Regions from separate parts of the Homo sapiens genome. Here all the other regions are linked to region 3. The links come from fine-mapping of genetic effects on gene expression. A gene starts in region 3. Each other region holds a variant in brackets. All regions are shown on one strand. Distances are between the middles of the regions.

Region 1 (11,176 bases), 95 kb after region 3:
AAAACTCTCAAGGCTGCTTCCCCATCACCCCTCCACCTCTGGGCACTGAAGGATGAGTAGGAGTTTCCCAGATCGGAAGGTCAAAAAGGGATGGGCATATGAGGCAAGAAGGCATATCTGGAGTAGGCCTGGGGAGGTACCGAGTATCCCAGTAGGCTGAGGGACACCAGAAGTAAGGACGTGGGTGAGAACCAGGGGGTGTAAGCCCAAGGAGTCAGACAGGGCCCTATGGTGGGGGCCTCTGGGGCTTGCTAAGGAGCTTAGATGGAATCCTCTGGCCATATTAATCTGAGTGCTCAACTCAGAGCGGGTGATCAGCAGATGTTTATTGAATTGGAATATCGGTTAATGAATTGGACCTCTTTTTCCTTGCAAACCCCACCCTCATGCACCCAATATAGTGCCATCAAAGACAAGAAGAAAAGCTACATGAGGAAGGGATATCCTTCTAGGAGTCCAGATGTCCTGCCCTTACAGTAGCTTTTGGAATACTATAGTCACAGAGCTGACAGGGTTCTTAGGGTACATTTGGTCTGCCTCTCTGCTTTTACAAAAGGGCACCTGAAGCAAGATGCGACAAAGTGCTTGCTTAATGCTTCACAGCAGATTGTGAAAGAATGAGGACTTGAACTCACATCCCTTGCTTCCTTGTTTCTGCCCTTTTCACTACAGCAACACTTGTCCTTGTCATCTATAACTTTCCCAGATTAGTTCTTCTATAACCCTAGTGAACCCTGGGCCTCCACATGGCTCAGTCTCTGCAGAGTTCTCCATATACAAAAACAAAACAAAATTCAGCAGCCAGAAGTACTTGAGAAGGAATTCCATTTGCTGCATGACTCTGTTGAACTTCGAGGGGATAAGAGTCACCAGCCACAGTTCCACTTTTCAAGGACCCTTGCCTCTACTCCTCAGCTCCTCCGGATGGTCTCTTGTGCCAGCACCCAAGCTGCTCCTGTAACCACAATCCAGAGCTGATTTTTCTCTTGCTTCTTCCTTCCTCATCTAGTTCTTTATTAAAGAGATTGACCTGGCCTCTCTGCGCATATCCTCCCTACCTTCTTCCTGTCTCTCAGGACTCATCTCCCCTCTTTTATCTGCCAGTGTTGTGTCTGGCAGTATGTTACAGAAACCTCATTACAGTGGCTAAAATAAGTAAGAGATTTATAATCTCTCCCCAGACAAGAAGTCCATAGGCAGATGCTCCACAGCTGTGCCAGAAGCTCTTCCTGGTTTTCTGCTCTGCCAGTTAGGGTGGATGGTTTGCTTCATCTCACAGATGGCTGCTGCACCTTTGGGCGTCATGCTTACATTCCAGGTTAGAAGAGGGGGAATGGCCAAAAGCAAAAGATATGTGCCTGCTGAATGGTCTCTTTACATCAGAAAAACAATTGATTTTCTGGAAGCCCCAGCCGGTAGAATTCTCCCTACACTCATTGGCCAGAGACGGTCACATGGCCATTGCTAGCTACAAGGGAGCCTTGGAAATAAGGCCCTGAATAGATAAGGGAAGAATGGATATTGTGTAAGAAGCTAGCAATGTCTGCCATACTCATCTTATAACTTTTGCATCACAAAAATCTGGGAGCTGACTTGGCAAAAACAGGGTTTCTTTCCATGTTGGGTTGGGGAATAGGAGTTTATTAAGCAAAGTTATTTACAGATGAATAAATATTAGCCTAAATGAGTATGATTGATTCTAGAGCACATTGATTTTGTTTTCATGTTGCAAATTTTTAGCCTTTAAAAATAGAAATTTAAATGGGCATTTAGGACATATTGCCTATAGGAAGCTAAACACTTTTTCTTAATGCATTATATTCAAGATTAGGGCTTTGCTCTGAGATTCCCAATTCCAGGAAGAAAAGTTTCTAAATACATTCTACTTGGAAAAATTATAGTTGTTTTCTCTTGTGCACTAAAATAAAATCAGTACAGAGAAAAAAACCCCACCAAGCTTTTGGTACTACAATTTCAATTCTCATCTTTGTCAATGTGCACATAGGCATTTAGTGTTATTATAATGAATGCATATCAGTTGATTGTAATCTGTTCTTTTCCATTTAATATTATTTTATAGCATGATTTTATAAACATACAGTTCATATAGTTATTTTTAGTAACTATATATTTTGAGATATCATAATTGGCTTAGTCATGCTCCTTTGACCAGTGGTAATTTCAAAAATATTTAACAACTGATATTCATATTGATCAATCAGAACACTCTAGGCTATAGAAACAGAGTATGTCCTGGAGGTCTCTGTAGGACCTGACATTAATTCATTTGTTGCTGGATTGTAGGGTAGATTGTTGGTGGTTGGGAGGTTGGGTAGGGAATATTTACTAACTGATATGGAAGAAATGTAACTATTTTCTTAATTAAAATTCTTTTTTTGTAGAGGTGGGAGTCTTGCTAGGTTGCTCAAGCTGGTCTCAAACTCCTGCCTCAAGCGATCTTCCTGCCACAATTCATTTTCATCTATTTATCTATTTTATAGAGACAGGGTCTCACCATGTTGTCCAGGCTGGTCTCAAACTCCTGGGCTCAAGCCATCCTCCCGCCTTGACCTCCCAAAGTGCTGGAACAGGTTCGAGCCCCTGTGCCTGGCCCCTGCAACAATTTAATAACCGGTTTTATAAGTTAGTTTTGGCTGTGTAACAAACCATTCTAAAACAGAGTGACTTAAAAGAAACAATCCATTTAGCCCATAATTCTGTGGGTTTGTAATTTTTAAAAATTAATATAGTTTTTAAAATTTCAATAGCTTTTGGGGTGTAAGTGGTTTTTTGTTACACAGATGAATTACATAGCGGTGAAGTCTGAGATTTTAGTGCACCCTTCGCCTGAGTAGTGAACATTGTACCCAATGTGTAGTTTATTTATCCCTCACTGTGCCCCACCCTCTCTCTTCTGAGTCTCCAAAGTCCATTATCTCACTCTGTATGTCTTCACATACTCATAGCTTAGTTCCCACTTATAAGTGAGAGCGTATGGTATTTGGTTTTCCATTCTTGAGTTACTTCACTGAAAATAATGGCCTCCTCTCCTTTGTAGCCAGTGGGCCAGGAAAGAAGAAAAAATAATGGTCCCCAGCTCTATCCAAGTTGCTGCAAAAGACATTATTTTGTGCTTTTTTATAGCTGAGTAGTTTTCCATGGTGTGTATGTATATCACATTTTCTTTATCATTGTTCGATGGTCACTTACACTGATTGATTTCTTTGCGACTGTGAGTTGGCTGCAATAAACATACACATGCAAGTGTCTTTTTGACATAATGACTTCTTTTCCTTTGCATAGATACCCAGTAGTGGGATTGCTAGATTGAATGGTAGTTCTACTTTTAGTTATTTAAGGAATCTTCATACTGTTTTGCATACAGGTTTTACTAATTTACATTCTCACCAGCAGTATGTGAGTGTTCCCTTTTTACCACACCCATACCAACGTCTATTGTTTTTTTTTTTCATTTTAGTAATGGCCATTCTTGCAGGAGTAAGGTGGTATCTCTCTGTGGTTTTAATTTGCATTTCCCTGATCTTCCTTTGAGAAACGCCTATTCATGTCATTTGCCCACTTTTCGATGGGATTATTCATTTTTTTCTTGCTGATTTGTTTGAGTTCCTAGTAGATTCTTGGTATTAGTCCTTTGTCGAGTGCATAGTTTGCAAATATTTTCTCCCATTCTGTGGGTTGTCTGTTTACTCTGATTATTCCTTTTGCTGTACAGAGGCTTTTTAGTTTAATTAGGTGCCATTTATTTAGTTTTGTTTTAGTTGCATTTGCTTTTAGGGTCCTAGTCATTAATTTTTTGCCTAGGCCAATGCCCAGAAGAGTTTTTCCTAGGTTATCTTCTGGAATTTTTGTGGTTTCAGGTCTTTGATTTAAATAGTTCTTTGCTCCATCTTGAGTTGATTTTTGGGTAAGGTGAGAGATAGGCATCCAGTTTCATCTTCTACATGTGGCTGGCCCGTTTTCCCAGCACCATTTATTAATTTATTTAATTTACCATTTTATTATAAAAGATATTGCAAAGGATACAGATGAAGAGAAGCATAGGATGAAGTATAGGGGAAGGGATTTGGAGCTTCCATGCTCTCCTTGGGTGGGCCCTGCTCCAGGAACTTCCTTATGTTCGCTCTCCAGAAGCTCACTGAACCCTCTTGAGTCCTCTTGAGTTTTTATGGAAGCTTCATTACATCAGTATTCCTTTGCCCCAGGGGATAGTGTGCGACCCTCTCATGGGAGAGTCTAAACATCCACAATCAGAAAGGTGGAGAACATTAGAGTCCTACCTTGGGGCAGGTGAAAGGAGGGCGGGAGAAGGTCAGAGGCCTAACACACCCAGCATTATAACAAAAGACTGCAACAAGGGTTATGGGAGTTATGAGCCAGAACTGTGGATGAAAATCAATATATATCATAACACCACAGGCCACTCCTGATTTTTAACCACGGATCCTTTACATCTATCTATCTATCTATTATCTATCTATCTATCTATCTATCTATCTATCTATCTCTGTATACACAATCATTAATAACTAGTTCAGTCTATCATATTGTATGAATGTCTCCCAGGATGAGGCCACTCACATTTGTAGGTTTCCTCACAATCTTTTCAGGTTCCAAAAGCAGGAGTGGCCTTGGTAAATATACAGCTTCACCCTTACAGGTATCTGGAATAATGAGCTAAGAGACAATGTCATCTTTTGCTCTGAGACTCTTGGGTCGTTAATGTAATATTGAATTTTCCTCAATTAATAACCCACTTATTTATTTCTTTACTCTTAGCTACTATTTCTCTTTCTTTCCATTAATACCCAAACTTTTTCATCTTTGGAAGGGGCATTAGAATCACCAGTGCTATTTATTAAACAGAGTGTCCTTTCCCCAATTTATGATTTTGTGTGCTTTGTCAAAGATCAGTTGGTTGTAAAGTATTTGGCTTTATTTCTGGGTTCTCGATTCTGTTCCACTGGCCTATGTGTCTACTTTTTGTACCAGTACCATGCTCTTTTGGTGACTACAGCCTTGTAGTATAATTTGAATTCCAGTAATGTGATGCCTTCAGATTTGTTCTTCATGCTTATGATTTCTTTGGCTACTTGGGCTCTTTTTTGGTTTTATATGATTTTTAGGATTTTTTTTTCTAATTCTGTGAAAAACGATGTTGGTATTTTGATAGGAATTGCATTGAATCTGTAGATTGCTTTGGGCAGTATGATCATTTTCATGGTATTGATTCTTCTAATCCGTGAGCATGGGGTGTGTTTTCATTTGTTTGTGCCATCCATGATTTATTTTAGCAGTATTTTGTTGTTCTCCTTGTAGAGATATTTCACCTCTTTGGTTAAGTATATTCCTAGGTATTTTGTTTTATTTTGCAGCTGTTGTAAAAGGGATTGAGTTCTTGATTTCATTCTCAACTTGTTTGTTGTTGGTGTATAGCAGTGCTACTGATTTGTGCGCACTGATTTTATAACCTGAGACTTTACTGAATTCATCTATCAAATCTGGGAGTCTTTTGGCGGGGTCCTTAGGGTTTTCTAGGTATATGACCATATCACTGGGGAAGAGTGATAGTCTGACTTCCTCTCTTGCAATTTGGATGTCCTTTATTTCTTTCTCTTGTTTAATTGCTCTGGCTAAGACTTTCAGTATATGTTGAATAGAAGTGGTGAAAGTGGGCATCCTTGTCTTGTCCCAGTTGTTGGGGTATGCTTTCAAAATTTCCCCATTCAGTATGATGTTGGCTGTGGGTTTGTCATATATGACTTTTACTATTTTGAGGTAAGTCCCTTCTATGCCTAGTTTGTTGAGGGTTTTTT[T/A]AAAAAAATCATAATGGGATGTTGGATTTTATTGAATACTTTTCTGTATTTATTGAGGTGATTATTTGGTTTTTGTTTTTAATTCTGTTTATGTGATGTATCACATTTATTGACTTGCATGTGTTAAACTATCCCTGCATCCCTGGGGTGAAACTGTGGGTTGGCAATTTGTGCTGGCATCAGCTAGGTGATTCTTATGGCCTTGACTAGCATCAATCATGTGTCTGTGGTCTGCTGCTGATCAGTTAGGCAATCTGCTTCTGGATCTTGCAAGGTCAATTGGAGTGATGGGGATAACTCGCCACAGGTATTTCATCCACCAGAAGGCCAGCTTAGGCTTTTCTTATGGTAGGACAGAGTTCCAAGAAAACAAGCAAAAACATGCAAGGATCCCCGAGGCCTGTGCTCGAAACTGGCAAAAATGTCTCTTCTGCCATACTTCATTGGCCAAAGCTAGTCCCAGGGTCAGACCCAAACGACAGACACAGATTCTGCTTCTGGATGGAAGGATGTGCAAAGTCACATTGAAAAGAGGTGTTGATATAGGGAGGAGAATAATTTGGGCTATTTTTGCAAAAAAATCTGCCATGCTGTCGCATACCAGGGTGGCTGGCTGACTATTGGCTCTGTTGCAAATTAAGCATTTATAATTTGCATTTTTCGACATTATGTATAGCAGTTTCATGAACATCATATTCTTCTTGAAGACTGCCATTCCTGGCATTAGAAAAATACTTACTAATGGAACAGGTTTAGAAGACCTTTAGTCATTCAGGAACCATTTATTCAGCACCCCTCTGCACTAACTGAAGAGACAGCATAAGCAGCAGATATATTTGTTTGGAGTCTAGAAGGGAAGATACACAGCAGTGAACAGCACAATGTGGAATGTGGTTTCTGTTTTGGTCATAGTGTGTGTGAAGGGGTTTGGGAGCAAAGGGAGGGACTACCCAGAGGGACGGGTGTGGGTAAGGAAAGTGTAGTTTAGTGTGTGTGTGTGTGTGTGTGTGTGTGTGTGTGTGTCTGTGTCTTGTGTAAAGCAAGGCTTCCAGTACTAATGGCAAAGTTTAGTTTTGAAAAATGAGTTAGTCAAGGAATGTGGTGAGCAGTGAATTTCAGGAACCACAAGGTATTTCATCCCAGATAATGAGGTTAGAGAGCAAGCCACAGTGAGATGGCAGTGAAAAGCAGGGCAGGGTCCCAAATTCCTTCAGCCTGTTCTTGTTGGAGGCAATGCAGGGTCACTGACAGGTACACATTTCATTGTGTAGGGTTGGTGCTGAAGACAGGGGCCCCATCCAGTGCAGGCTGTTTGACTCCTTGCAGTAAGTACTTTTCTAATGCCAAGAATGGTAAAGTCATCTGGTTCCGGGGCAAGAACCTGGAACCAGAGAAGGGATTTCTTTTCTTACTGAACACAGCTTGGTTATCTGTGAAGTCACACTAGAAGAAATAAACTTGGTCTTACCTCACATTTTTCACTAAAATAAGTTCCAGGTAGATCAAAGATTTGGGCATTTAAAAAGTAAAGTCATAAAATATTAGTAGAAAATAGAATTATTTTAATCTCAAAATGGGCAAGACTTTTCTAAGAACTATACAAACCCAGATATCATAGTAAATGAGATTGATGCATTTGACTACATAAAACAAAAATGGAAATTAAAAAAAACACCTGAGTTGCAAAAAACACCATATGGAAAGTAAAAAAACCCCAACAAATTAGGAAAAAATATTTGTAATGTGGTGGCCTTGCTATCAGTTATTTAGTTTTCCAAACATTATTTTGTTGAAAAAAAAAAACCATTTCTTACTGACTTAAAGTGTAACCCTGACCATATGTGATGTGTTTATCTATTTATGCAGACTCACATGGGCCTCTTTGTGGGCTTTACATTCTGTTCCTTTCATGTATTTATTCTTTCATGTGTCCTGCCCTATTATTTTAATTACTATAATATGGTAACATATCATAATGTCTCAAATTGCTTTTTAAAATGAGATGTTTGTTGAAAAGCTTTCTTTGCCCATGTAAAGGATTTTTCTATTTAAGAATATGGTATACCTTCTTATTAGTACAGGTCTTTTTTTTATACATCCTTTAGGGGTAATTTAAACTTTTCTTCACACAGATTTTGCACATCTTAAGTTTATTTCTATGTATTTTATCATTTTTGGTTATTACAAATGAGATGTTTTCCTCTATGTTACCTTCTAACTGGCTATTAAGCTCTCCATATTAATTTTCTATCCCTCTAACCTACAAAATGTTTTATTGTTTACAATAGATTTTCATCTTATTCTCTTGGACTTTTATTGGTTAATAATCATATCAGTAACAAGTACTCCTATCTTTGTCTTCACTTTTAATTTTTTTTGTACTTTATATTTCCATCTATTGTTGACTTCATTGGATAGAATTTCCAGAATTATGTTAAATAATAAGGGCAATGGTGGACATTCTTCTCTTTTTCTTGACTTTAATGAGAGTGCGTCTTGTGTTTTCCCATTAAATATGAGGCTGGTTTAAAGACTGAGATACATATATCTATCACATCAACAAAGCATCTGTCATTAGCAGTGTCTGCTACAACCAACTGCTTACGGTAGCTAAGTATCTGCTTTTTTTTCTATGTGGAACATAATAATTCCTGCCCCAAGGGGAGTTCCATTTAGGTCCTGCCTCTGACCAAAGGCCAGTTCTGCCCATGAAGTCCAAATAGGCTTCCTTTGGTTTATTATTATTATTATTATTATTTTAGAGACAGGGTCTTGGTCTGTCACCTAGGTCAGAGTGCAGTGGTGTGATCATGGCTCACTGGAGCCTCATACTCCTGGGCTCCAGTGATCCTCCTGCCTCAGCCTCCCAAGTAGTTAGGACTACAGGCACACCACCATGCCTGGCTAATTTTTACATTTTTTTTTTGTACAGACAGGGTCTCACTGTGTTGTACAGGCTGGTCTCGAACTCTTGGCCTCAAGCAATCCTCCTGCCTTGGCCTTCCAAAACTCTAAGATTATAGGTGTGAGCCACTGTCTTGGTCTGGTGGTCTTTAAACTAAAAGAAAAGTTATTTAGTCACAACACAGCTGACATACAGTCACTCAGTGGACACAGGATAATCACAACAGAAACTCCCATGCTCAAAAGGGAAAATGGGAAATGCTGTAGACGTTGGTCCATGGCAGAGATTACAGTGAGCTCTAATGGCAAAGATTCCCTTTTCTGGCTGTAGAACACATTTCATGGTGGGGCTACTTGGATCTCCTGTTTCTGTTCTCTGGGAAAAATGCCCTGTTCATTATCTACTGGTGTCCCTGCCTCTGCCCAAGGGAACTTTCTTCCTTGTCTTTTATTGCTCATGGCCATAAAAATACTGCACTATCAGTCAACTTAGGTTTTCAGCCACAGACAGAAAGTACCTCTCTTAGCAAAATTATTTTCCCTTCCATCTCTGTTTCTGATGGGCTGGCTCTAGACTGAGGTCATCTGTCTTGTAGAGTTGCATGAAAGAAAACAAAAAAGCAGCTAATGCCCACCAAAACTAAGATTTTCTCCTAATGCTTCAGCCTCCTTTGGCAGGTTGTCTTCAAGATACCACCTGTGAGGGTTTAACTCACCCATGAGCTTTGTATGGAGTAAGAGTCACCAGATTATCAGCCTGTGGTACTGTATTTCATGTAAGATGTTAGTAATTGTTAGACACATCTTACTCAAAAATGTTAACATATAAAAAAAAGGCCTATGACAATTGTCAGATGCTCTTAGCTTTAGGATGCAGATCACTTTCAGAGATGTAAGAATGTGCAAAAATGTGCAGCTTAGACAAGTACCCATGTCTACGTCTTTGCCGTCTGCTGTCTCCCTAATTGTACTGGATAATATCACTTTTTAGGCTTTGTAACTTGAAGCTTCCTACCTGTGCATACCAAATTCTGTTTACATTAAGGTTCATTGTTGTTCTGCTCTCTTCAATGTTCAGTTTCCACTTGTGGTCCAAGATGGCTGCTCCAGCACCAGGAGCTGTGCCACTTTCCCACCAGCAGGAAGGAGGGAAGGGACTAAAATGGACATTCTCTCCTCTTTTAAGTATATGTCCAGGAAGTTGTGCATGCCATTTCTGCCTATATCCCATTGTCTAGAAGTTAGTTACATGGTTACACTTAGCTAGGAGAATACCATTTTTATTCTAGGCAGCCAAGTGTCCACATAGTATTCAGGTACTTAATTACTATGCAAGGAAAGGATGCATATTGGAAACACCTAACAGTTTCTACAGGTCTCTGAAATAGTCCTATTTTTATTAAATGAAATTGTCCTCAAGAAGATATATAGTTTTGTTAGATGCTTTTTGAACATCTCTGGAGGTGGTTAAACTATTTTTTGAATTATTTTAATAGATTACTTAATATTGAACCATCTTTGCTTTCCTGGAATAAACTCCACTTGGCCAGGTAGTATTAATTTTTAAATTTGTTTCTGGATTCTGTTTGCTAATATTTAAGAGTTTTTGCAATGATATTTATAAGGAGGATTGGCTCATTTTTGTTTCTTTGTTTTTGGTGCATCCATGCTCTGCTCTGCTCTGTCTGTACAGCTGTAATTCTTCTAGGCATGAAAGGGGTGCGCCTCTCACTGGAGCTAAGGCCTGTTATAATCTTGAGTTTGCACAGTGTCTAGGATGTGGGGATGGCACCTTTTAGTCTCTGTGGCCTCTCCATCCTGTGGTGTCCAGGAGCCCTTTCTTAGGACCTGTGTGGAATCTGTCACTTTCAGCCTTGTGTTATAGGCTTCTATGTCTGTCTTCTATTCTCTGCTGGCTCAAGCCTCCTGTGACCAGTCACTCCTTCCTCATACACAGAGTGAGCACTCTTTCACTACCAGGTACTGAAGTCACAGGGTGGGAGGGGCCTAGTGCTGTGCTACAGGATTTCCCAGTCTGGAAGGGAGAGGCTTTTTATGGAAACAGATCTGTGACATGGGAATGAGTGTCATGGATGATTCTACAACGTGTTGGGGCTCAGAGACCTGGGAGATGCTGCTATGAGGTGTTGATGAACGAGTTGAGTCTTGAAGCAAGATTAAGAGTGCCTGACAGAAATCCAATCAGTGCTCAATAAATATTTGGTGAGTGAATATATGAAGATATTCTGCTAGGCAGATAAGACAAGGGAAGGAAAAACATGTGAGAAGATGGCCGGGTACGGTGGCTCATGCCTGTAATCTCAGCACTTTGGGAGGCCGAGGTGGGCGGATCACTTGAGGTCAGGAGTTTGAGACCAGCCTGGCCAACATGGTGAAACCCCATTTCTACTAAAGATACAAAAATTAGCCGGGCGTGG
Region 2 (8,000 bases), 27 kb after region 3:
CAATGCTTATTTTCTGTTTGTTTTTTAATAGGAGCTATCCTAAGTGGATGTGAGGTGTGTAGATTTTTTTTTTTTAATCAGAGTTGGGTTTTAGCCCAGCTAACCTGCTAGCCCTTTGAGAAATGTATTTGCATGAGGGAGTAAAGCATAAGGCCAGCTAGGAGGTAATTGCATTGACTTAGATTTGTGGTAATGAGGAATTGGTTTGATTGTGGTGGGACAATGTGATTTTGAGAGGTGACAGAAAAATGGAAATAATTTATTCAAATTTAAGAAACTGAGAGAAATGACATGAAAATGACTTTTACATTTGAATTTGATTGTAATAGAAATGTGGAAGTAAAGGGAAGGAGAGAAAGAATAACTTACTGTTCTTCAGCGTTTTGGGTGATGGGAATATTGTTGTGGAAATAAATGCCTGTAAGGGCAGCTTGAAATATGGGAGCATATGACAGCAAGAAAACAGGTCTGGAAACTTGTTTTTGTGAGAGTCAGCGGGATGAGAGAGGTCATAGTATTTCTCTTTGAAACATTTGTTTTCTTTAGAAAAAATAATCTGATGAATTTTTCCTTCTCAATTTTTTACAGCTCTTGCAAGCTTAGGATATGAAAAGAGCTGTGTGTTGTTCAATTGTGCAGCCTTAGCTAGCCAAATTGCAGCAGAACAGAACCTGGATAATGATGAAGGATTGAAAATCGCTGCTAAACATTACCAGGTATGCTGAAAAGTAGTTACTACAATAATGGTCAACACTAAATTGGATTAAGTGGAAAATAATTTGCATTTAGGTTTATAGATACTTCTTACGCAACAGATGTTTTCTAAAACGAATGCACTTTTAAAATGAATTTATTCTTACTGTTAAAGCCCTTAGATAAACTGTCTATAGACCAGGTCTGTTATTCCTCATTGTTTTATACCGAGCACCTAGCACAGTGCCTGGCACATAATAGAGGCTCAATAATTGTTGGTTGAAGAAATTATGAAATGTCTGAGATTTCATCTCAGGCATTTAGGGTAAATCCATTTTAAATAAATTACCTAATTAAAAAAAATTTGTACATTATTTTCATATGTTTTCTTAGAGTGAGACACACTTGAAATTTCACTGTTGTTACAAAAATAAAGACAAGAAATTGGCAAGAAAATAAAATTTTAACTTTGAGACTTGTGGAGAGGTCATATTTAAATATGGTCAGACACATAATGTTCATAAGTTGCCTAATCTGTTTTACGTACTGATCATTTACTAATATGGCATGTTATTTTGTGGCAGTTTATTTTATTTTATTTATTTATTTATTTTGAGACGGAGTCTTGTTCTGTTGCCCAGGCTGGAGTGCAGTGGCACAATCTCGGCTCACTGCAAGCTCCGCCTCCTGGGTTCACGCCATTCTCCTGTCTCAGCCTCCTGAATAGCTAGGACTATAGGCATCCGCCACCTCGCCTGGCTAATTTTTTTTGTATTTTTAGTAGAGATGGGGTTTCACTGTGTTAGCCAGGATGGTCTTGATCTCCTGACATCATGATCCACCCACCTCGGCCTCCCAAAGTGCTGGGATTACAGATGTGAGCCACCATGCCCGGCCAGCAGTTGTTTATTATTTATTCAGCTTTTTTTTGTTTTGGTTAAAAGAACAGTAAATGATTACTGTTAAATAATATATATATAATCATGTTGTCATTTTATATTACTTTCTAATTTACAAAGTGTTTTCATGTACATTATTTGACTCTCAGATAAACCTTGTGATGTATGTCATATAATGTCATTCCGATTTTACATACGAGGAGGCTAAAGGTCCGAAGTCTTAATAAAGCAGTCTATTTGGGTTTCAATAGTTCTGATTCCAAATTTCATGTAATTCCAAATGTCCTTCCACTGTTTCACTCCCAAACCTCCCATGAAATTTGCTTGTCTCAGAGGTAGTCTGCTTTTTCCCGTTGTTTATGTTTAGGGAAGAGGTGAGTGATGCTGTTCTGAGAAAGTAAAAGGAAAATATACCGTAAGCAAACAACACGCTCCAAATTGTGGCTTGCCTTACAGTTTTGAATGGGCATAGATGACAAACATAATGCATACGCTATTTCTTTTTGAGGCTATACATGGCAAATATTTTAAAATGTGAAAACGAGCTGGGCGTGGTGGCTCACGCCTGTAATCCCAGCACTGTGGGAGGCTGTGGTGTGCGGATCACGAGGTCAGGAGTTCCAGACCAGCCTGGCCAACATGGTGAAACCCTGTCTGTACTAAAAATAGAAAAATTAGCTGGGTGTGATGGTGGGCGCCTGTAGTCTGAGCTACTCGGGAGGCTGAGGCAGGAGAATCTCTTGAACCGAGGAGGCGGAGGTTGCAGAGAGCTGAGGTTGTGCCATTGCACTCTAGTCTGGGCGACAAGAGCAAGACTCTGTCTCAAAATAAATAAAATAAAATACAGTAGTGAAAACGAAGTAAAATTTTATTTAGCTTTTGGTTAACTGTAACTCAGTTAGTTAGTATATGAGATTTTAGAAAGGTCATTCTGAATTATGAAAGAAACATTCCATTCTGTGAGGGTTCACAGCAGGGCACCTGGTATCATGGAAAGATAACTGGTGGTATTAGACCTAGGTCCTTGTCTAGGCTGCTTGCCACCCAGAAGCTTTGTGCCGTTGGGCAAGTTCTTTAACCTCTCTAGTACCTCCAGTTCCTTATCTGTAAATGAGAGACTCAGACACTTTGCTGTTGTAGACTTTGATTCACTAGTTTACTGAACAAGTTCAGTTGTTCATTCCTAGCAGATACTCTAGTGTTATAATACTTACTGACTGCAGAAACATGCTGTTCATTTTAATACATTTGACTTTGAGTTTTCTCTGTGTTGTCTATTTATCTAACTCATGACACCTTTTTTTTTTTTTCTTTTTTGAGATGGAGTCTCGCTCTGTTGCCCAGGCAGGAGTACAATGGCGTGATCTTGGCTCACTGCAACCTCCGCCTCCTGGGTTCAAGTGATTCTCCTGCCTCAGCCTCCCGAGCAGCTGGGATTACAAGTGTGTGCCATCATGCCCAGCTAATTTTTGTATTTTTAGTAGAGACGGGGTTTCATCATGTTGGCCAGGCTGGTCTTGAACTCCTGACCTCAGGTAATCTGCCCACCTCAGCCTCCCAAAGTGCCGGGATTAACAGGCGTGAGCCACCGCACCCGGCCAACTCATGACACCTTTTAATCCCAGACTGATTTATTTCTTTTTCTTAGTATAATTTGTTTCATGAAAGCAAAGTTATTTTAGTATTAACAAAATATAATTGAGATGAAAAATCTGATGGGGAACATTTCACTAGTGAGCTCTGAAGGCCAGACAGAAATCACTGGCAATGGGTAGTAATGCTGTTCCTCAGAGGACTAGGTGTATGTACTACCTGGGGTGTCCCCTAACTACGGCATGTTTAATTATTTGAAAGATGAATTTGTTTGGGACCAAAGCAAGAGCATTGCAGTACTAAAAATATTTTAATGTTTATCCCCGCCTCTATTCTCATGTTAATTTTGAGGAAGTATATCTAAAAATAGTTTAATCAGATTGTTCCATTAGTTTACTTTGTTTTTCCTTGTAATTTACTTTTAATCTTTGTTAAATCTCTTGTTACGCTATAGAGTTTTAGAAAGATAACCTTATTGTCTGTAGGTCAGATGTTTTAGATTGGTTTTGC[A/G]TAATATAAAAATTTAAATATATTAACTGTTCACTGAGTTAACATTTGAAATGACTTTTATATGTAACAGTAGGAAATTAAGTCTTGCTGAGTTCCTATAAAGAAATTCTTTTTCCCCCCTTTAGTTTGCTAGTGGTGCCTTTTTACATATTAAAGAGACGGTTTTATCTGCCTTAAGTCGAGAGCCGACCGTGGACATATCTCCAGATACTGTTGGGACCCTCAGTCTTATTATGCTGGCACAGGCTCAAGAAGTATTTTTTTTAAAAGCCACAAGAGGTAACTCCAATTTATCTTTTTGTTGCATGTGAAAAAAAGTGATAAGGCTTTTAAATTAAGAAAGTGATTAGAATATAATATGTTCAATGTCGAGCTGTCCTTCTTGAACTTGATACATGAATTATGGAAAATTTTCAGCTATCCTTTTCTGAATTTGTGGCACAAATTTACATTTAAGAATGTAGGCTGTGTTTGAAGTCATGAAATAGATCTTTAGTAATTGTCTTTAAACACTCCATTCTGGAATAGTATTTATGTATGTTTTTAACATGTCAGACATTTATTCGCAAATATTTATTGGATACTTACTCTGTGCCAGTCACTGTTCTAGTTTCTAGATAAACGGAGTTAGAAAACAACTTAGGTTTTGGCGACGGGAGAGATGATAAGCAAGAATTAAGTAGACAGGATAATTTCATAAATAATTGCTATAAGATTTCAGAAATAATTGCTATAAAAAATAAGAGAATTATATGATAGTGGCTGGTGGTATGGTTATGGGATAGGGATATAGGGGAAGCTGGGCTAATTTTAGATTCATTAGTCAAGAAGGCTTTCTTTCAGGAGGTCCTCTTTAAAGTAGACCTAAATGACAAGAAGGAGTCATCCAGGCACAGTCCCTAGCCCTGGGAATGAGGGAATAAGAATAATTCTTATAAGGCATATAAGTTAGCATGAGAGATTGAAAATGGGCTGAATATGTAATATGGGCTGAAACTGAAAATAAGAGATAAGTCATCATGTGGAAGAAATAGGAATTGGAATACTTTTTTCTTTTAAAATAACAGCTTATATTGAGATAGAATTTATATACACTCAAGTTCACCCTTTCTAAGTATACAACATAAGATTTTTAGTATATTCATAGAGTTTTGATTACCACTATCTTATTTTAGAACATTACCATCATCCCAGAAAGAAGCCATGTACCCATTAGCAGTCACTCCTCACTCCCCTTTCCCCCACTGCTGGCAACCACTAATCTATTTTGTCTGTTCTAAATTTTGTGCAGAAAATGTGATTTCATCAAGAAAGATGTTTTCAGATGCGTGTACAAACTTGTGACCTCAGTGTTTATACTGAGACATGTCAGATTAGCTCATATTTATTTTAATTATAATGGTCATATTGTATTCCAGATAAAATGAAAGATGCCATCATAGCTAAATTGGCTAATCAGGCTGCAGATTATTTTGGTGATGCTTTCAAACAGTGTCAATACAAAGATACTCTCCCCAAGGTCAGTTATTGTTTTTATAAACACTTGCTTACTTTGCATGTGAAATATTTAGACTTTTTTGTGTATAAGAAGCAAGTTGAAACTTATAAAGAAATTTGAAGTTTTAATAGAGTTATCTGAAGTATATAGTAGAAATAGTTTTTTTTTTTTTTTAATTTAAGATGCATGAACAATTCTTTTATGTTTAGGGGATGCCTTTGTCTTTACCTTTTACTAAACTTGTTTTTCCAAGCTAGAACTCTTTCTGGAAAATGTTGACCATCTGTTTTCAATACTTTTATCAAATCAAGGCATTGTGTAGTTCTGAATCATTGGTGATTTGGTACAAGCATGTATACTTGAGCATGTTGATGATTCACACTTTTAATTATTGTCCTGTTTTCTTAAAGATGAGCCTTAAAGCGCAAAAACAGACATAAAGAAAAAAGGAAAAGAAAACTTAACAAATTCATCTGATACTTTGATTAGAATTCAGTTTTGCCAACAGGGATAAAAAATTGGGCTGCTAATGGACAGCTAAGGAAAGCAACCATCTTAAACCACATATCACAGGAAGTATAATGTTTTAATGTAAACCTTTCTGAAGTGACAATTGTAAAGACTATTCAGTGATGATCATTTGTTAATGACAAAGCAAATCACTAGTAAATTTGGAATGATTAATAAAGAAAACTTAAAGATTGAGTGAAATATATGTTTCAACTACTTCCTTCAGAAATGTTCAAGGAATTAGTTTCATCATATGGTATCTGTTACATGATTTTTTTTGGTAGGGGAATTTATTGATTTGTAAGTCATATTCAGGAATCTTTGTACATTAAAAAATTGCAGACAACTTGGGGGTGAAGTAAAAATGCACATAAGTGCATTAACAGTACTTATTACTCAGAAAATGATCAATAAGGAATTAATGTGACGATTCCTGGGGATTTAAGATACACCAAGAGCCTAGTAGAAATTTGCCCAGGATTCTTGGGTATTAACAGCCTTCCTCTTAAAAAGAGACTTGGGATCTCCTCTCATGTTTTTTTCATCTGAAAGACCTCATGTTCAGCTGCACAGTGTTCCGTTACATCCTGTTGGGCCATTAGTTCAGTCCTGTCATGGAGAGAAGAAAGTCACCTACAAAGACTTGGAAGCTACCTCTGCAGCATTCCTGGTATTCCTTGAAAATCTCCTGTTTCAGAACCAAGTTGCTCCAGCCTTACCTTGAGAACTGGCATGAGTGTAGTTTGAAATTTAGATGTCTTTTATTTTTTCCTTTTTACTAATAAAGCTCATAAGGTATTTTCATATTCTAGTTATAAAACTGAAAAGTCTGCAAGTAGTGATCCAGGAAGGTAGGAAATTATTCCCTGGGAGACAGGAAAGCACACAAGGTAGTAATTCAGTTTTTGATTCTCTTACATTTTTTGTTTAGATAGTGATTGTCTAGCCTAATTCCTTGGATTTTTTTAATATCATATACTTCCTAAAAGCAGTGAGGTTACAGGTTAGATTTTGACGTTTTGGAAGAGCCACCACTAGTATAATTGCTTTCCTGCTTTATGTCTTTGGATCTTTTGAAATTAATTTTGACTGGAATTATTTTCAAAACAAATAGGCAAAATAACACTTTATCATTATCATTGGTCATATACTTAGTGCATTTGTCTATGATATGTTTTTGAGTATATGACACTGAAATATTAGTGTATCTATGATACTAAATCATTTTTATATGGCTAAAATCATCTTCAGTAAGAACTCTCTTAGGATATGAATTTAAGTGAAAATTTACTGTCTTTTTTTTAAAACATGATGAAACAGTAATCTATAGAGCAATTTCATTAGTATATGTGAGTAATGATGGTTTAGTTAACTCTACAGGCTGGGTAAGGGCTCATAAGAAAGCTTCTAAAGCTCTGTGCTTTGTGTTCCTCTGTGAATGTCCATTCTACTTCTCTTTCTAATAATGCATGCTTTTCTTTTTGTAAACAAAATGTTGACTTCATGGATCAATTAAAGAGAATTGTAAAAACCTAAATTGGCTTCAGTTAACAGTTAAAAAAAACCCCTTCAATTGGAAGAAAAAAAATTTAATTCATAGATTTCAATCCACACAAAATCATGTCGTCTTCTCTGTTTACACCTAATGACTAACCTTAATCTCTAAACCATTAATGGGGTGATTCTAATTTCTGTCTTCTTTTCCTTTTTCTTCCTGCATCCCATGTTGTCTGTGGTGGTTTGTGTGGTTGGACTCTCCCCTGGTCAGTATTTTTATTTCCAGGAGGTGTTCCCTGTCTTGGCTGCAAAGCACTGTATCATGCAGGCCAATGCTGAGTACCATCAGTCTATCCTGGCAAAACAGCAGAAGAAATTTGGAGAAGAAATTGCAAGGTTACAGGTGAGTCTCTTGGTAATAAATATTTAAGTAACTAACTTGGATCTCTCTTTTTTTTCCTAGTGAGATTTCCAAGTTTGCCCATAAAAACCTTTCCCGTTCATCACCCCTATCAGCAGGGACAAGTGATTGTTTTTATCTTTAGACTTTACTGCATGTTTTTTTGAGGTCTCATATTTTATCTAAAAAATAGATGCAAAATTTGCATTCAATTCTCTTTTTTATCCATGTTTATTTTAATGTAAAAATAATTCTAAATTAATTGCCATCTCCAGATTGTTTTTGTCTTTAGACTTTACTGCATGGTTTTTTGAGGTCTCATATTTTATCTGAAAAATTCATGCAGAATTTGCATTCAGTTCTCTTTTTTGGTCATGTTTATTTTAGTGTAAAAATAATT
Region 3 (8,278 bases):
TGTTCCGCTCAGCACCAAAAGGACTTTCTTTCTTGCACTGCAGGAACTTCCCTTACATCAAATCCTTATACTGTTTACTCTCATTTATTGTAAAAATACTACAGTCTTCTGAATCTGACTTCTGTAAGCCTCTTTTCTCCTTAATAACAAAGACTCCTCCAAAAATCATAAGTGCTTACTTTCAGGCTATCGTCTCCATGTGGACTTGAAACACACTATTTTGAAACTCAAAGCTGCCTTCAGCAGGGTTCTCTCCATTCGAAGAGGCAACTATTTCCACTGGTTCAATCAGTGGGGTTAATGATAGGCCCAGAACCAGGAATTTTCAAGAAGGAAAGTCCACTGACTTAATATTCTCCAAATGTACTCGTTATGCTGAGAATACACACTAAGAACATATGGCATTTCATTACATAAATGAAAAACATCATCATAAGCAAGTTTGGAAGCAGTGAAACACACCCTTGGAAGGCATTATAAATGCTCCCTAATATCTGATTCTCCCTTCCCAGTCCCATTGCAGTTTGGTGGAGCCATGTGAAAGGTTCTAGCTAGTGAAATGCAAGTGGAAGTAGGAGGGCTGAGGTAGTGACAAGCTGCTGCATGATGCTACAGATTTCCTCTTCTGCAGTGAAAGTGGAATCTCATGTTGGGATGGCAGAGTTACAAGATCAAAGTGGTCTGGATTGCTCAGACACTGGTTGGAGGACAACTCTAAGCCTGTTCCATATTAGACTTTGTGTGAGCAAAGAACAAATGTTTATTAGTATCTTTGAGTTTAAAATTGAAACTGAGATTTTGAAATTGTTTATTGTCAGAACATAAGCTAGCCAATCTTGACTAATATACCATAATTCTTTGCTTATTGGCCTATTGCCTAATTAGCTGGAGTGCTTGTTGTTGGTGAAAGTGTGTTATTTTGGAAGTAGAGAATATATTTTATATATATATATTTTTTTTTTTTACAAGGGTGAAACTTATTTAATGATATTTATTGAATGCCTGCTATACCAAGTGCTAGAGATGCATCAGTATACAAAACACACAATTTTTGCCCTCATGGAGCTTACATTTTAGTGGGGAAGTCAGATAAAAATTATATCAACAAACAAAATACTTGCAAGTTAGGGTAAGTGTTATGAAGGAACTAATGGCTGCGCTAGAGGTTAACAAGGGAGGGAATCTACTTTAGATAGTATGATGATGAGGAGAGGAGACCTTTCAACTGAGATATGAAGAAAGGGAGAAAACATTCTAGGTCACATGAGGCAAGAAAGATCTTGGTGTGTTTGAGAAACTAAAAAGACCATTGTGACTCAGTGGTAACAAATGAGGAACAAGAGGCAAAATATGAAGTTGCAGAGAAAGATCATCATGTTGTGGCAGGGAGTTTGGTTTTCATTCCAAGCCATCAGATAGTATCACCTTAATCTTCCTTTGGTCAATGCCACAAAACTAACCACATCTATGTTAACTTTCTTTTCTCCGCCATCTGCCTCAACAAATGTCATGTCCCTCATCTTTCTGATGGCTAATCACTCCCTTTGTATCCTCCCTCCTCTGGTTACCCTTTCTCCTCTTTTCATATACTTTGCTTCTTCGTTATCTTCCCAATGGGTCAGTCCTGTCAACCAACCTACAAGACACCACCCATCCCCCACCCTCTTCCATGGGTTATCAACTGGTAATGATTCTACTAACCACTCAGATGTTCAGGCCCCAAAACCAGGACCTATCTTGACCACTCTCTTTTCTTTACTTTCCTATGCAGTTCATTGGTAAATTCTTCAGTTTTAAACTCAAAGATATTATCAGTTTGGTTCACTCTTGCTAATGTTAGCTTTCCTGATTTCGTCTTGATTTCTGAAATGGTCTCATGATTTGCCTCCTTGCCTCCATTCTTTCCTTCCTCTAATTTTTTCTTTATGCATCAGCCAAGGGTGGCTACTTATTTTAACATAGAATAGCTTAATTAAAATAAACAAAAATTTTTATAAATTGTGGTAAAATAGGCCGGGTGCAGTGGCTCACGCCTGTAATCCCAGCACTTTGGGAGGCTAAAGCGGGTGGATCACTTGAGGCCAGGAGTTCGAGACCAGCCGGGCCAACATCGCGAAATCCAGTCTCTATTAAAAATACAAAAATTAGCCAGGCATGTGGTGTGCACCTGTAGTCCCAGCTACTCAGAAGGCTGAGGCAGGAGAATAGCTTGAACCTGGGAGGTGGAGGTTGCAGTGGGCTGAGATTGTGCCACTGCACTCCAGCCTGGGTGACAGAGTGAGACTCTTTCTAAAAAAAAAAAAATTGTGGTAAAATAAACTTTTACTATAATGAAAGTAGTCTATGTGCTGCAAAAGTTACAATGAAAAAGATAGGCAAACACAAAGAAAAAAATACACATTTCCACTTCCAAAGATTACCAATACTAACACCTTAGGGTATAAGCCCACTATTTTTTTAGTTGTACATAAATACATATATGTGCATTTTTAAACCAAAATGAGATGCTGTAACATACTATTTCGTGACTTGCTCTTTTCAGTTAATGATCTTTTCCATGGCAATACAGTTCTATTTTATCCAATACTCAGTCCATCTACATTCATATTTCTTTAATGGTCCTGAAAATGCATTTTATAGACAGTCTGTTCAAACCAGGATCCAATTCAAACTGTTATGTCCCTTAAATTTCTTTTCATAAAGCAGTTGCTTTTATCATGACAAATTGTTGAAGAGATGGGCCAGTTATCCTGCAGAATGTTTCACCTTCTGGATCTGTCTAGTTACTTCCTCTGGCATCATTTAGTTTGTTCATCTATCTGTTGTATTTTTTATAAACTGTGTTAGATGCAAAGGCTTGACAGATTCAAGTTAAATATTTTTGCCTGGAATATACCATGATGATACTGTATACTACATCCCATCAAAAGACAAACTATCCGATTGAGCTACAACGTGGCCTTTAAAAAATGTAAATTATAAGTGTATATAGCTTCCTCTGCATTTATTATACAATACTAAACAAATTCTTCAACTTGGACAACAAGTTTCTGAATGATTTGATGCCTGCTTACTCATCCAACTTTATTCCATCCCATTCTATTTGTTTTTAAAGGTCTTGTCACATGTTTCGTTTCTAGTCCTGAAACATGGTTAAGTGCTTGCCTCCTAGGGCCTCTGCCGCAGGCTTTTGGTTTGGAGGCTCTCCTTTGCCACTCCACCCCTCTCCACTCTTCTCCTCTTCTGATATCAAGCATCTTCTCAAATTACAGGTGTCGTTTTTAATTTATTTAAAATTTTGTTCTTTCTACAAAACAGCAACCAGAGACACAGGTTCATTTTCAGTTAACCTACTCGGAGAAAACCTACTTTATCTTATTTAAATTAGGGTCCTCCAAGCGATCTTAACATCTCCTAAGTCCCAAGCACCCTGTTTTTTTCCTGATACTTTTTCCGTTTACCTTAAGGTCTGTGTCAACCTGACAGTAAGCTGCACGATGGCAGGGGTCTTGCCTACTAGGTTCCCTGTGCACAGCAGCCCGTCAACAGTAGTTGAATAAACATCATAGGTCACAATAACCCTGGGACTGCCTCTTGGGGAGGTAGCCGCAAACTCTCGCAGGTGGCAGTGACACCAGTACTTCTCCGGGGGGTTGTTCGAGTGGAGGAATACTCTTACGTGAAAGTGCTCAGTACACCACTGCGGCAGGAAGGAGGAAGGGAAGAATTCCAGATGGGGAGAAAGTAATATTTTGCAGCACAGTACAGGGTAAACTGGGTCCAGGTGGGCGTAGCCGCCGCGACACCTTCACGTGACCGCGGACAGCTTAAGGACCCCGCATCCAGTGCGCCTGCGCTGGAGCTCCCGGAAGTTGCCGGACCCGGAACGCAGGCGGAGCGCAAGTCTGTCAGCCAGTCAGTCCGCCAGTCCGCCAGCCCAGTACCTCTCTCTCCTCGGCCCTCGTAAGCTGTCCGCGGTCTGTTTGGCCCGAACGGCGGCGGAGGCGCTGATCATGGCGACATTCATCTCGGTGCAGCTGAAAAAGACCTCAGAGGTGGACCTGGCCAAGCCGCTGGTGAAGTTCATCCAGCAGACTTACCCAAGCGGCGGGGAAGAGCAGGCCCAGTACTGCCGCGCGGCGGAGGAGCTCAGCAAGCTGCGCCGCGCCGCAGTCGGTCGTCCGCTGGACAAGCACGAGGGCGCGCTCGAGACGCTCCTGAGGTGGGCGCGGGGCTGGGAGTGGGTAGGTTGTCTGCCAGCCGTCGCTCGCCGCTCCTCTTCCCGTCTCCCCCCTTCCTTCAATCCTGTAACCTGGGCGGAGCCGCCCCGTCCCGGCCTGACCAGGCGCGTAGGTGTGGTCTGCATTCTTTGCTGGTGAGCAGGACCCGCCCTGCAGGCCCGCTGTGACTGCCCGCTTGTCCTGCCTGCACGTCTGCTCTAGCCCTTGGTCGGCGAGGGCTCCGTGGATCAGATACCTGGGAGCAGCAGTCTGCCCTGTACTGATCTCTTTTGCCACATTTACTTAGAACTAGTCTTCACTTTTTTGGGTCTCTAACTGAAGCTTCCCCTTTCGCCCCATTTTTCCATCACTGTCTTTCTTGGGCCACATTTTGATTTCATAATAGTAGTTGCTTGAAGGCAGTGGGGGAAGTGGGGGAATTGGGACACTGGACCAAATGTCTGATCAGCTCATCACATTGTCCACATGAAATGGACCGTCTTCCTCAGTTCAAAATAATCAAATGATAGATGGAGAATTCTGAAAGTTAGGAGCTACAACTATTTGAAATAAAACTCTAGTTACATAGTTGAACCGTTCAAGGTAGGTTGTTTAAAAGCAGTTTGTTCACAAACAGATATATACACAGTAGAGTAAATTTGTTATTTTAGCAAACGCTTATTTAGCTCATGCTGATTTAATGAGGGTTCCTTTCATGATACTTAATAGTTATAAGAACATTTTTTACGATTTTATAGTTAAACATTTCTTTTGCATACCTTGTTAATCTCGTTTTCTCCGTATAGTATATTCTACTTGTTTCACAGGAGAATCACAATTGTATTCCAATCCAAGTAGCAGAAACCCAGGCTAAACTAGCTTGAGCTAAGAAAAGACTTATTCTGCCGGGCGCGGTGGCTCACGCCTGTAATCCCAGCACTTTGGGAGGCCGAGGCGGGCGGATCACGAGGTCAGGAGATCGACACCATCCTGGCTAGCACGGTGAAACCCCATCTCTACTAAAAATACAACAAATTAGCCGGGCGTGGTGGCGGGTGCCTGTAGTCCCAGCTACTCGGGAGGCTGAGGCAGGAGAATGGTGTGAACCTGGGAGACGGAGCTTGCAGTGAGCCGAGATCGCGCCACTGCACTCCAGCCTGGGCGACAGAGTGAGACTCCATCTCAAAAAAAAAAAAAAAAAAAAAAAAAAGTAAGACTTATTCTGCTAACTGAAAAGTCTAGGGATATTCCTTCCTTAGCTTTAGGTATCACTGGAGATCGTCTTGCCTCCGTGATGCTTCCCTCGAAAGCTTTGTTCATGTATTGAGAGGGATGGCTGTAGTGTAATAACAATCGTCCGCAACACTCAGTATCTTACAGAAGGGAGTGCTTTTCTCCTTAGCTCTGGTGGAAGTCCATGGGAGGCTCCTGGGTTTGTTTGCACCCATTTATGATGGTGGGAAATGGGCTAAGTTAATTGCCCTTATCTGAGTCATCCAGCCGGTTTAATTTCTCCTTACCCCATGGATCAAAGCAAGATGAGTCCGGACTGGGGAAGGGTTGGTTCTCCGAAGGAAGGGGTACTGAATAGATTGCTCAGAGGAATTAAGACCCCTTGGTGTCAAATTTTAGAGCTACAACTGTTGGGCTGCAAGGATCATTAGTCTAATAGCATAAGCATTTTTTTTAAAGTTAACCTAGAAATACTTAGCCATTCTTTAGAATTAACATAATTAAACAATTTCAAGGTAATTTTTATGTAGGCATGAATAGCATTCAGTGAGGATTTTCCATTAGTAATATTAAGAAAACATAGTTGTGGTATAATGAGCCCTGTGATAAAAATCTTGTTGAATATATCAAATTTGGTTCCAGCCCTCAGATTTGGGGTCTTCAGAAGCACTTGGTGCATGGGTTTTAAGCTAACAGACATGGGAGGTTGGTGGATAATGGTTTGGATACGGTTCTCCTGTCAACTTTAAAACTTAATTCATTTGTTCCTTCCTTTATTCTTTTTACCAGACTTAAATGTGTGAACTGTTCCTAGGTAGTGGACCTGTTGTAGATATAGTCTCTTTGAAACTAACCATGTTTCTTTAGTCACCTCTGTATAATCCCCTCCTGCCACATTAATTCAACAAATATTAAGTATTTTCACTTTTTGGGCTTCTAGAGGGGTTAGGGTAAGCTTGGAGATATTACTAAAGTTTATAATGGAGGTAGGTACAAAAGTTTTGTAGGTATATACGCTGTAAAATTAGATGTGAATCAGTTGTGTGATGTTCATTCAAATCCGGCAGAATATCTTATTTTTAATAATTATGTTTGGATAATTGTGTAAACTTAACATTAATTTTTTAACTTAATGAACTTTTTAAACTAATGAACTTTGAAAAACAGAGTTTAAACTAATTCCTAAATAATTGAAGCCAGCTTGATAAGTCCTGATATGCAGCTCCATATATTGCTCCAGTGATAGACTTGTTTTCTTATTACTAACTTGTAGGTGTTCTATTAAAATTTCCTAAAATATACATTTATGCATATTATAATAATGAGAATGAGTACTTAAAAACTCATTTGTTCTGGGTGTGGTAGCATGCACTCATAATTCCAGCTGAGGCAGAAGGATCACTAGAGCCCACGAGTTGGAGACCAGCCTGAACTACATACTGAGACGCTGTCTCAAAACAAAACAAAACAACAACAACAAAAAACCCTTTTATATGATACTTCTTCCTTTATAAAGTGGCTTTTACTAAAAATTGATTAGACCTTGGTAAATGGTGACCTAGGGTGATCAAATGGGAACCCTGCTGGTTTTTTATTTTTATTTTGTATTTTATTTGAAGCTCCAGATATACCATTTACCAGCATTGTGTAATTTCTTTTGTGGTGATCAGTTTCTTTAGAGAGAAAGCTTCTAGTCTTCCATGAAAAAGTCTGCTTATCAGCTTTCTAAATTTTATCCTGGGGAATGGAGGTTGGGGATCTTAACAATCATGTATGCAGTCTATCAGGTACATCTATTTTTAGTATGACACCTGCATTAGGGTTAGGTTCATTTCTGTGTGGTAGATCCCAAATTATCTGAGTTAAGATTTTATTTTGTAAAAAGTTGGCAGGTAGGTAGTTCTGGTAGCCCAGGGCTGGTGTAGTGTTTCTGTGGAGTTAATTGGGGCTCAGATTCCTTTCAGCTTTCTGCTGTTTGAAACCTAGAATATTGTTCTCAGGTCCAGGTTGCAATCATATCCAAGTTCCAGGTAGTAGGATGGAGAAAGGCACGGGGCTCGCCCTTTAGGGTGTTTCCTGGCAACTGTTCCACAACACCCTGCCTATATGTTACCGGCCATTTTGTGTGTCCTTCTGATAGGATGCTAGGAAAAGGAATTTTCATTATGAGCAGCTGTATACTCAGCTAAAGGGACACAGTTTTGTTAATAAGGAATAGGATAGACTGATAATGATGTAGTCAATTAGCACTCCCTACCCCACTTAGCAGTGCTTGATCTCCACCTTAGTTATATTTGATATCTCTGACATTTTTTTCTTTTTTCTTTTTTTTTTTTTTGAGGTGGAGTTTTGCTCTTGTTACCCAGGCTGGAGTGCAGTGGCATGATCTCGGCTCACCACAACCTCCGCCTCTCGGGTTCAAACGATTCTCCTGCCTCAGCCTCCTGAGTAGCTGGGATTTACAGGCATGAACCACTCTGCCTGGCTAATTTTGTATTTTTGGTAGAGACGGGCTTTCTCCATGTTGGTCAGGCTGGTCTGGAACTCCTGACCTCGGGTGATCCACCCGCCTCGGCCTCCCAAAGTGCTGGGATTACAGGCGTGAGCCACTGTGCCCGGCCAATCTCTGACGTTTTTTTGAGAGTGAACCTACCTTCAGAGTAGAGGATCTGGGAGCCTGAAGTTTTCTTTGAAGGATTTTCAACCATACCTTCTCGTTCCAGCCTCACATTGAACTACCTTCAGAGGTACCTCATGTTTCTTAATTCAGATCCTTTTCTGGCTTCTCTGGCATGATTTGGCTTCTGCTTTGGCTCCCTTCCCTC

Evidence for each region. PIP is the estimated chance that this variant, and not a neighbour inherited with it, causes the effect.
Region 1: its variant is fine-mapped to the expression of PDCD6IP-DT in breast (GTEx, PIP above 0.99). The same link has a PIP of 0.9 or more in skin and whole blood.
Region 2: its variant is fine-mapped to the expression of PDCD6IP-DT in subcutaneous fat (GTEx, PIP above 0.99). The same link has a PIP of 0.9 or more in left ventricle and stomach.

Annotation. Positions count from the first base shown.
Region 1 is chr3:33,888,332-33,899,507 of GRCh38, forward strand. No RefSeq gene overlaps it. Among named protein-coding and RNA genes, the nearest start is that of PDCD6IP, 95 kb to the left of the region's middle. The variant T/A (reference allele first, on the strand shown) is at 5,835.
Region 2 is chr3:33,821,367-33,829,366 of GRCh38, forward strand. PDCD6IP (programmed cell death 6 interacting protein) reads left to right here. Exons shown (of 18, transcript NM_013374.6): 4 at 589-716; 5 at 3,821-3,974; 6 at 5,114-5,214; 7 at 7,487-7,603. Among named protein-coding and RNA genes, the nearest start is that of PDCD6IP, 27 kb to the left of the region's middle. The variant A/G (reference allele first, on the strand shown) is at 3,696.
Region 3 is chr3:33,794,716-33,802,993 of GRCh38, forward strand. PDCD6IP-DT (PDCD6IP divergent transcript) reads right to left here and starts at 3,804. Exons shown (of 2, transcript NR_183731.1): 1 at 3,680-3,804; 2 at 1-3,307. It overlaps PDCD6IP (programmed cell death 6 interacting protein), which reads left to right and starts at 3,915. Exons shown (of 18, transcript NM_013374.6): 1 at 3,915-4,222. The coding sequence starts at 4,014. RefSeq lists enhancers at 3,782-4,131, 4,078-4,611.